Homo sapiens: one gene and its partner. The protein of the gene in region 1 interacts with the protein of each later gene in a pairwise test. Each region holds a gene or a part of one and is shown on either strand. Other genes may lie near its edges. The genes, in order: PAQR5 and SGPL1.

Region 1 (3,910 bases):
AAGGAAGGAAGGAAGAAAGAAAGAAAGAAAGAAAGAAAGAAAGAAAGAAAGAAAGAAAGAAAGAAAACGAACTAAAGGAAGGAAGGAAGGAAGGAAGGAAAGAAGGAAAGAAAGAAAGAAAGAGAGAGAGAGAGGGAGGGAGGAAGGAAGAGAAAGAATGAAAGAAAGAAAGAAAGAAAGAAAGAAAGAAAGAAAGAAAGAAAGAGAGAGAGAGAGGGAGGGAGGAAGGAAGAGAAAGAATGAAAGAAAGAAAGAAAAGAAAGAAAGAAAGAAAGAAAGAAAGAAAGAAAGAAAGAAAGAAAGAAAGAAAGAAAGAAGGAAAGAAAGAAAGAAAGAGAAAGAAAGAAAAGCATACGGGATTAAGGATGTACTCTTGGTGTAAGGGGAAAATGTTGCCCCACGTGGGTAAGGGTGCCAAGGGATCTCAGTGGTGGGGCTGGACACCTTTCTGATCCAACTTTTCAGAGTGCCCTTTCTGCTTGCCAAGGGCAGAGATAAGGCAGTTGGAAAAGAAGCTTTGCTGTTGCAGGCTAATCATTCCATTCTCGCAGAGCACCTTCCGTGTGCCAGGTACTATTGCTACGGCAGGGAACAAAGCAGGTCCCTGCAGGGAACAAAGCAGGTCCCTGCCCTCCTGCAGTTCTGGGAGCTTAGCAAGGCTCTGGCTGGCTCTTGGAGGACCTTACTGACTGGAGTTTGTGTCTGCTTGGAGGTGCCCTCTCCCCTGAACCTCTTTCACAGGCAGAACCTAGGGGGGTGGGGAGTGGGGTAAAAGAAACAAACCTCTGCTGAGTCAAGGGCACTGCAAGAATGCAGAAGCGACCATGCAGCTCTGGAAGGATGCGGTGGGAAACCCGCCACTCAGTGGTGGAGAAAAGCCCACCAGTTTCTCCAGCAAATGGCTGAGCTTTGTTGGGCCTCCTTGTCTTCTCATCTGCCCATGTGTTAATATCTACTCGCCATTGGTTTGTTAGGTTCAAATGAAATCAGGGATGTGTCCCTTTTTGGCTGCTAGCTCTTCTCAGATCCCCTGACCTCTCCCCATCTCTTCTCTATGGCTCTGCGTGGGAAGGGGCAGTTGTCACCCCCGACTCCCACTAAGCTGAGCCCTCCTCCCAACCTAAGCGGGAGGAAGCCGGTTCTGCTCACGGATAAGAGTTACCGGGCTCCTGAGTTCTTGTTCTGCTGGGCCGGGGTCCACCCCCTCTCCTGGGCTCATCCGACTAGGACTTGGGAAGTGCTAGGGGAGCCAGGAGATGCCCAGCTGGGGGCTGTGGCCGGGGGGAGGCCAATGACAGAGCAGGGGGAACTCCCTGTAGCTGGGCACCCACTTCAACAGGGCCGGGACGACCCCCGCAGGCAGTGGGCCGCCCCTCACCCACACGGTCCTGCTCAGCCCAGGCTCACATCTGGGCTCAGGAGGCGGGAAGCACAGGTGTAAAGAAATCGCCAACTGTGCAGCCCCAATCCAAGGGTTTTATTAAAGTGGGGGCGGCGGGAGGGGGGCGGTGGAGGAAGGATAAGCGGCGCAAACGCCCTGGAGAGTGAGAGAAAAGGTGCGAGAAGGCAACAGCTCCCCTCACCGCCCTCGATTGCAGCAGAGAGCCTTCTGCACGGCGGCGGCCGCCCCACCTTCACACCGGCCCCGCGTGCGGTGAAAGTGGCCGAGCCGCGCCGCCGCCGGATCAGGGCCGCCCCGGCACAAACTTTCCCAGACCCGCCCTCGGAGCGGCCACCCAGGCTCAACGGGCTCCACGGGCGCAGGGCGGCTGGGGCTGCCGCGGAGGGCGGGTGCGCGTGGACCGGGAGGTGGGGAGGCGGCGCGCGGCGGGGAGTCCCGCCCCGGGTTACCTGGGTTCCAAGGGTCTCGGGAGTCCAGTGGACAGGGCGCGGGGACAGCACAGGCAGGCCGGAGACCAGACACTCCTCCCGGGCTGCGGCGACCCCGGACTCGCGGGCCCTGCACCTGGCCCTGCGGGTCGCCGCGCCTACCCATGCCGGTCCCCGCCCGTCCCCTCCCGCGCGGGGCGGGGCGGCCCCGGGGGAGGAGCCGAGGGCCGTGGGCACCACCCCCTGAGCCAGGCCTGCGCCTCATCACGTGCCACCGACCCTGGGCTCTGTGACTTCCAAAGACTCGCCACCCCATTCCACAGCCTGAGGTGCCACCAAAGCCATAAGCCCAGGGGAGTCTCTCACACCCCATTCTCCTAGGGCCCATGTACCCCACGCCCACCTCCACCCCAGGAGCCGAAGGCCGGCAGGGAGCCTGGAGAGCCTCCTTGATGGGAGAACTGCGGAGCTTGCCCCTCGGAAAAGTGCATGGGGTGGAGAACAGGGAAGGAGAAAAAAACAACAACTGGGTACTCGCAGCCCCACCGCGGTGTCCGCTTCGCCGGTGGGAGAGGATCCTCGCCGCCCTGAATCCTTGAAGTGAGTTCCACCCCTGTCTCTTGGAGTGCTCAGGGTGGCGGGCCCTTTGCCAGCCCTCACCCTTTCCCCAGGGATCCTGTCCCAGGTCACAGGCTCCTAGACTGGAAGGCGCTGGGCCTGGACCTCTGCCACTCAGTGGACACAGCTATAAGAGATGAAGGGACACAGAGGACAAAGAAGAAACATTTGGCTTCAGGGAACCAGACTCTGTGTCTCCTCCCAGGTGCTGAAGGAACAGGTTGCAGCTACCTGGTGCCCCCACCCCGACCCTGCCAGAGAAAGGTTGGAACATCCACACCTGTGGACCGAAGTCCCCCACCAGGCTCTTTCCTCCCACCCTTCAGCCCCAGGCTCTCTGAGCTCCTGCTCCTCCCTGCCTTGCCTTGTTTGCTGAGGGCACACACAGTGGAGAGAGCACAGGACTGGGAGTCCAGAGACCTGGGCTCTAGTCTACTCTGTGACTCGGGTCAAGTCTCTGGCCCTTTGTGGGCCCAAGTTGCCCCATTTGCAGTGAATAGGTTGCAGTCAATTATCTCCGGCCATTTTTACGGATCCTGAACCGTGGTCTTGGGCACCTTGCTTTATTAGGCTTTTTGGTGGCTGTGCATCTTGTAAGGGTGTGTATGCATGTGCGTGTGTGTGTGCGTGCGACATGCGCTTGTCCTCTCAGACCCAAGTTCTTAAAGGGAAAGAGACTGGGGCCTACACAGAGGCAGGCATGTATATTCCACAGACCAGAGTTTGACAAGAATGACTGGACACAAGAGTGGAGCCCAGTCCCAGCTCTATGCTGAATTCAGAGTAGCCTTGGACAAGACCCTCACCATCTACAAAATGGAGATTAATAATCCCTGCTTTGCCTTTCCAAGGCTAGTCGGGGGACTCAGTGAGATATTAGATATGAAGCTCTTTGAAGGGGAATAGCACAGGGATGTGTGCTTTTGATGTCTGGGCCAGTGATGGGTTTGGGGGAAGAATAGGGTGTGAAGCATTCTCTGGGAGGCAAAGGCTGGCACTGGACTGATTGGCCACCCTGCCAAAGCTGCAGCATGCACAGCACAGGCAGGCACCCCACCACCAGCAGCCAAGGTGAGCAGAGATGCCTGGTGCCCCACCTGGATTCCTGCCTGCTGTAGGTATCTGTGTGTGCACCTTGAAGAAACTAAAGAGGGAAGATAAAGAGGCTCCCAACCTAAATGGAGGTGGTCAGTGGATTACTGATGAATCGATCTGCATATCTTGGCCAAAATCACCCTCCTCTGCTCTTAGGGAGTTTAAAGTCTAACTGAATGATTGAACATGAACCCTTTGGAGAATGATGTGGAGCCAGGAGAGGGGATTGTGGATGGTGAGCACACAGGATGATCAGAGGAGGGGGAAGGGCAGGGAGGGGCCGGGGAGGGGGGTACTTAGACCACATGGAGATGCATTTAGAGTATTGTGTTCAACACTCCTATTTCATAGTGATGAAATGGAGGCC
Region 2 (3,910 bases), on another chromosome or scaffold:
TGAATCTGGGTGTTCATCCTACTCTGATATTCAAAAAAGCATAGAAAAAGGTCTGATTTCTGCTCATCACCAGCCCAGGATAGGGTTCAGGTGTGCTCTGACCACTGCCAATTCAGGAAGGCGGCACCATGGCCAAAAGCTCCCAGATTATTTGGAAACCATGTTTTCTTCCTAGTCCATGGTAACAAGAAAAAGCCAATGGAAGCATCATTCCAAACAATAATCTCCAAAGATGGTGGCAACCAAGTGTCAAATGGGGACTGCAGGCACAGAAGAGACCACCCCAAACCCTGCCTGGGTGGACGAAGCAGGTATGCTAGAATAGTCCTGTCCTGCAGAATAGGGAACGGCAGCTTGGTCGATCTGTGCCCTGGAAAAAGAAAATGAGTTGCAATAGAAGTGACTCTAAGACAGACAATGAACCTACTCTTAAGAGAGACAGGGCCAGGCACGGTGGCTCACGCCTGTAATCCCAGCACTTTGGGAGGCTGAGGCGGGGGGGCGGGTATCACCTGAGGTCAGGAGTTCAAGACCAGCCTGGCCAACACGGTGAACCCGTCTCTACTGAAAAAGAAAATTGAAAAATTAGCCAGGCGTGGTGGTGGGTGCCGGTAATCCCAGCTACTCGGGAGGCTGAGGCAGAAGAATCGCTTGAACCCAGTGGGTGGAGGTTGCAGTGAGCTGAGATCATGCCACTGCACTCCAGACTGGGCAAAAGAGCAAAATTCCATCTCAAAAAAAAAAAAAAAAAAAAAAAAGAGAGAGAAGGCTGAAAAAGCCTCCTGCTTAGAGTATACCTCACACCCAGCTGAGGAAACATCTGTTATGTAAACGCCTCCTGCCTGAGATAACAAAGAAGCTCTAGCTATCTCATAAACTGTACCCCAGCTTCTCTAAAGAATCAGGACAGGTCAGAGCTACCACACAATGTTTAAGTAAAGTTGAAAGCTAGAGAGTTTAGAAAAGGAAATGGTTAAAACAATTCCTAGGGTAACATTTATAACAAGGGCAAAATCATTATGTAATGGAATTCTCTGGGGTCTTCAAATTAAAAACCACAAAAGGAAGATAAGAGGAAGAACAAGAATCCTGAGGCTCAAGCTGTCTCATGGTCTATCTTGAGTTGTGCTCTATGGAGCAAGACCAGATGTCAAAGTTGTGCACGGCCTGTTCCATATCCCAAGAACCTTCTGAAGGCTGGAATCCCCTTGAGACTAGAAAGGGTCCAAGTTCAGTGGGGTTTTGGAGAACCATTCATCTGGCTGCCCTGGGTGACAGTGTCGGTGCTGTACAAGCTGTCCAAGAAGACTGAGGACAATTCTGCAACCATATTCCTGTCAACAGTTGTCTGGGCCATGCCATAGATGGCACCCTACAAATCCAAAGAAAGAGACATTATTAGTGAGGCCAGGTCCAAAAGCAAGAATAAAACTGCAGCAATGAGCCCCTTCTCCCCGAGTCCTAGCTTCGCATGTGCACTGCCCTACCCCATTTCCACCTAAGGCATCCCATCATTCTATCAGAAAAACAGCTGGCATAGTCAATTTTTCACAGGGACTTTCCAGTCTGCCTTTCTGCATAAAGGGACTAGCCTAAGAAAATTCCAGAAAAAACATGTTTACTATCTTTCCTGTGACAAAATTTTCTTTTCAAATGGACACTACCACCAGCTGCTTTTATACAGAAGTCTCTAACTTACAAGGTACTTTATAGTGTATCTCATTTGAGACTTCAGCAACCCTAAGGGGTGGGTGATGCAGAGATCATCAGCTCCAGTCAACAAATAAAAGATGTCTGTGGCAAAGGGGCAGAGGCAGGAACAGACTCCGGGTCATATGATTCCTTCAAACTCTCCACCAACACCTAAATTTCCAAGAGAAGAAAAAAAACTCCAAGTGTCCCTACCATTCCTGTGGTCTTCGCTTTAGGATTCTTCATGATTTGAGTGACAGATTCTCGAATGTCCTTTAGGAATTGTATAGCTACTCGTTTCCGGGCGTGTAGTAATGTGATGCAGAAATGAATACTAGGAAAGAAGAGACAGAGAGAGATGAACCTTGAAGAAAGAAAAAATGTTCTAAAATGATGCAGCCCCAAATACGGGAATTTCCTGGTTGCCCTTTCACAATATTTCTGACAAGTGTAGTCATCCAAGTTGTTCCTAGTCCTGGGAATCTCGGCTCTCTCATGCTTGGGGTGTCAGGCATGGGCTGGCCTCAGAGCTTCTCGGCATGACTGAGAACCATGCTAAGAGGATGAACAGTGTTGGCTGCTTTGTCCCACCCATCCCCTCACAAATTCCACCACCATTCCTTCAACCACGTCACCATCAATGAGACACTTTTATCTTAGATAATCAGCCCCCATGTGCTCTCATGGGGACAGGGCCACATGGCTGGGGTCTTAAAGGACTTCAGGGCACAGAAGAAATTCTACCTCGCCCTGGAGGAATTTAGTGGGGTTTACTGGAATTGTGAAGAGGGAAAAAGATAGTCCAGATGGGACTGGCAATGCACCAACGTGTGGAAGGCTAAGCTGTACACAGAGGACATGAACAGACCTGTACTCAGTTGGAGTGGTGCATTTACTCAAAGGCATCATGGAAGATTAGGTTAGAAAAGTCTAATAAAGAAGGCAGTAGCAGGCCTGAATGATTAGAGACCCCCAGGAAGATCTTGAACTAAATATTAGCCAGGTAACAAGTATTTTATAAGAGCAATTTGATGGCTGTGTACAAGATGGATTGGAGAGTAGAAAGGCTAGAGACTGAGAGAAAAACCTCATGACCAACCACTGGTCTAGGAGGCTGTCACCTAATTCTGCCAGAGTTTAAAGCTAATGGTCTTGTTCTTTGTATCTAATAATTCCAGGTGGCAAGAGAGAAATCCTTTATATACTACAGTTGCTACTAACGTGCTAGCCTCTAGCAGTCAAACTCTATACTTCAGGTTACTGTACCACCCAAGTTCTTCCAAAATCATGGAGCAAAATAAGGGAAAGAGGCTTCTTCAAGCTTACCTGGGTGGGAACTGCAACTGGTTCAAGTTCCACCCCTTAGCAGTCATCAGGTTTGATAGTCGGTAGATGTCAAAATCACGGGATCCCAGAGCAATGACTGACAATTGGGGATTCCCAAAAACAAAGATGCCTTTGATATTTTCCAGTCTTAAAACAAAAAAATAAATGAAGGAAGAAAAAGTAAATTCAGTCACATACAATCCCCTGGTCACTATCTCTTTAATCATTCAAAGTCTTCCTTATAATGAATGCAATCTAACCCTTTGGGCTTTAGTCTTCTCATCTTCAAAAAAGAAGAGGGCTACACTGGATCAGTGGTTCTTACTGAGATCAGAATCATAGATGGAACAATAAAAATGGAATTCCAAGGCCCAAACCCCATCTAGATCTAATGACTCAATCACTGACTTCGAACCTGTCTACCCAACTCCCAATTATATTCCCCTAGATGCTTCTGAGGCATGAAAGATGTACTAAAAAAATTTCTGGAAAAGTAATCTGCCCATCTCCACAGTTCTAAAAAGTCATATGTAATCCCTAAAGCAAGAAATGGTATAGCAGGTCTTAATAAATGGCCCTATCAGAGCTATAGGAGGACCTTTTATATATATCTAATTTTTATTTATTTGTTTGCTTATTTATTTGAGACAGGGTCTTGCTCTGTCACCCAGGCTAGAGTGCAGTGGTGTGATCATAGCTCACTGTAACCTCAAATTCCTGGGCTGTTCAAGCAGTCCTCTTGCCTTAAGCCTCCTGTGTAGCTGGGACCAAAGGTGCACACCACCACATGTGGCTAATTTTTATTTTTATTTATTTTTTATTTTTGAGATGGAGTTTCGTTCTTGTTGCCCAGGCTTGAGTGCAATGGTGCCATCTCAACTCACCGCAACCT

Evidence for each region.
Region 2: the proteins of PAQR5 (region 1) and SGPL1 interact in binary tests that used the Homo sapiens proteins (3 or more experiments, as listed by UniProt).

What each region holds. Positions count from the first base shown.
Region 1 is NC_000015.10:69,296,998-69,300,907, reverse strand, and holds the start of PAQR5 (membrane progestin receptor gamma), read right to left. Parts: upstream 1,997-3,910; 5' UTR 1,852-1,996; intron 1-1,851. UniProt on the Homo sapiens protein: Plasma membrane progesterone (P4) receptor coupled to G proteins. Seems to act through a G(i) mediated pathway. May be involved in oocyte maturation.
Region 2 is NC_000010.11:70,874,657-70,878,566, reverse strand, and holds part of SGPL1 (sphingosine-1-phosphate lyase 1), read right to left. Parts: intron 3,166-3,910; coding exon 3,019-3,165; intron 2,027-3,018; coding exon 1,906-2,026; intron 1,373-1,905; coding exon 1,232-1,372; 3' UTR 1-1,231. UniProt on the Homo sapiens protein: Cleaves phosphorylated sphingoid bases (PSBs), such as sphingosine-1-phosphate, into fatty aldehydes and phosphoethanolamine. Elevates stress-induced ceramide production and apoptosis.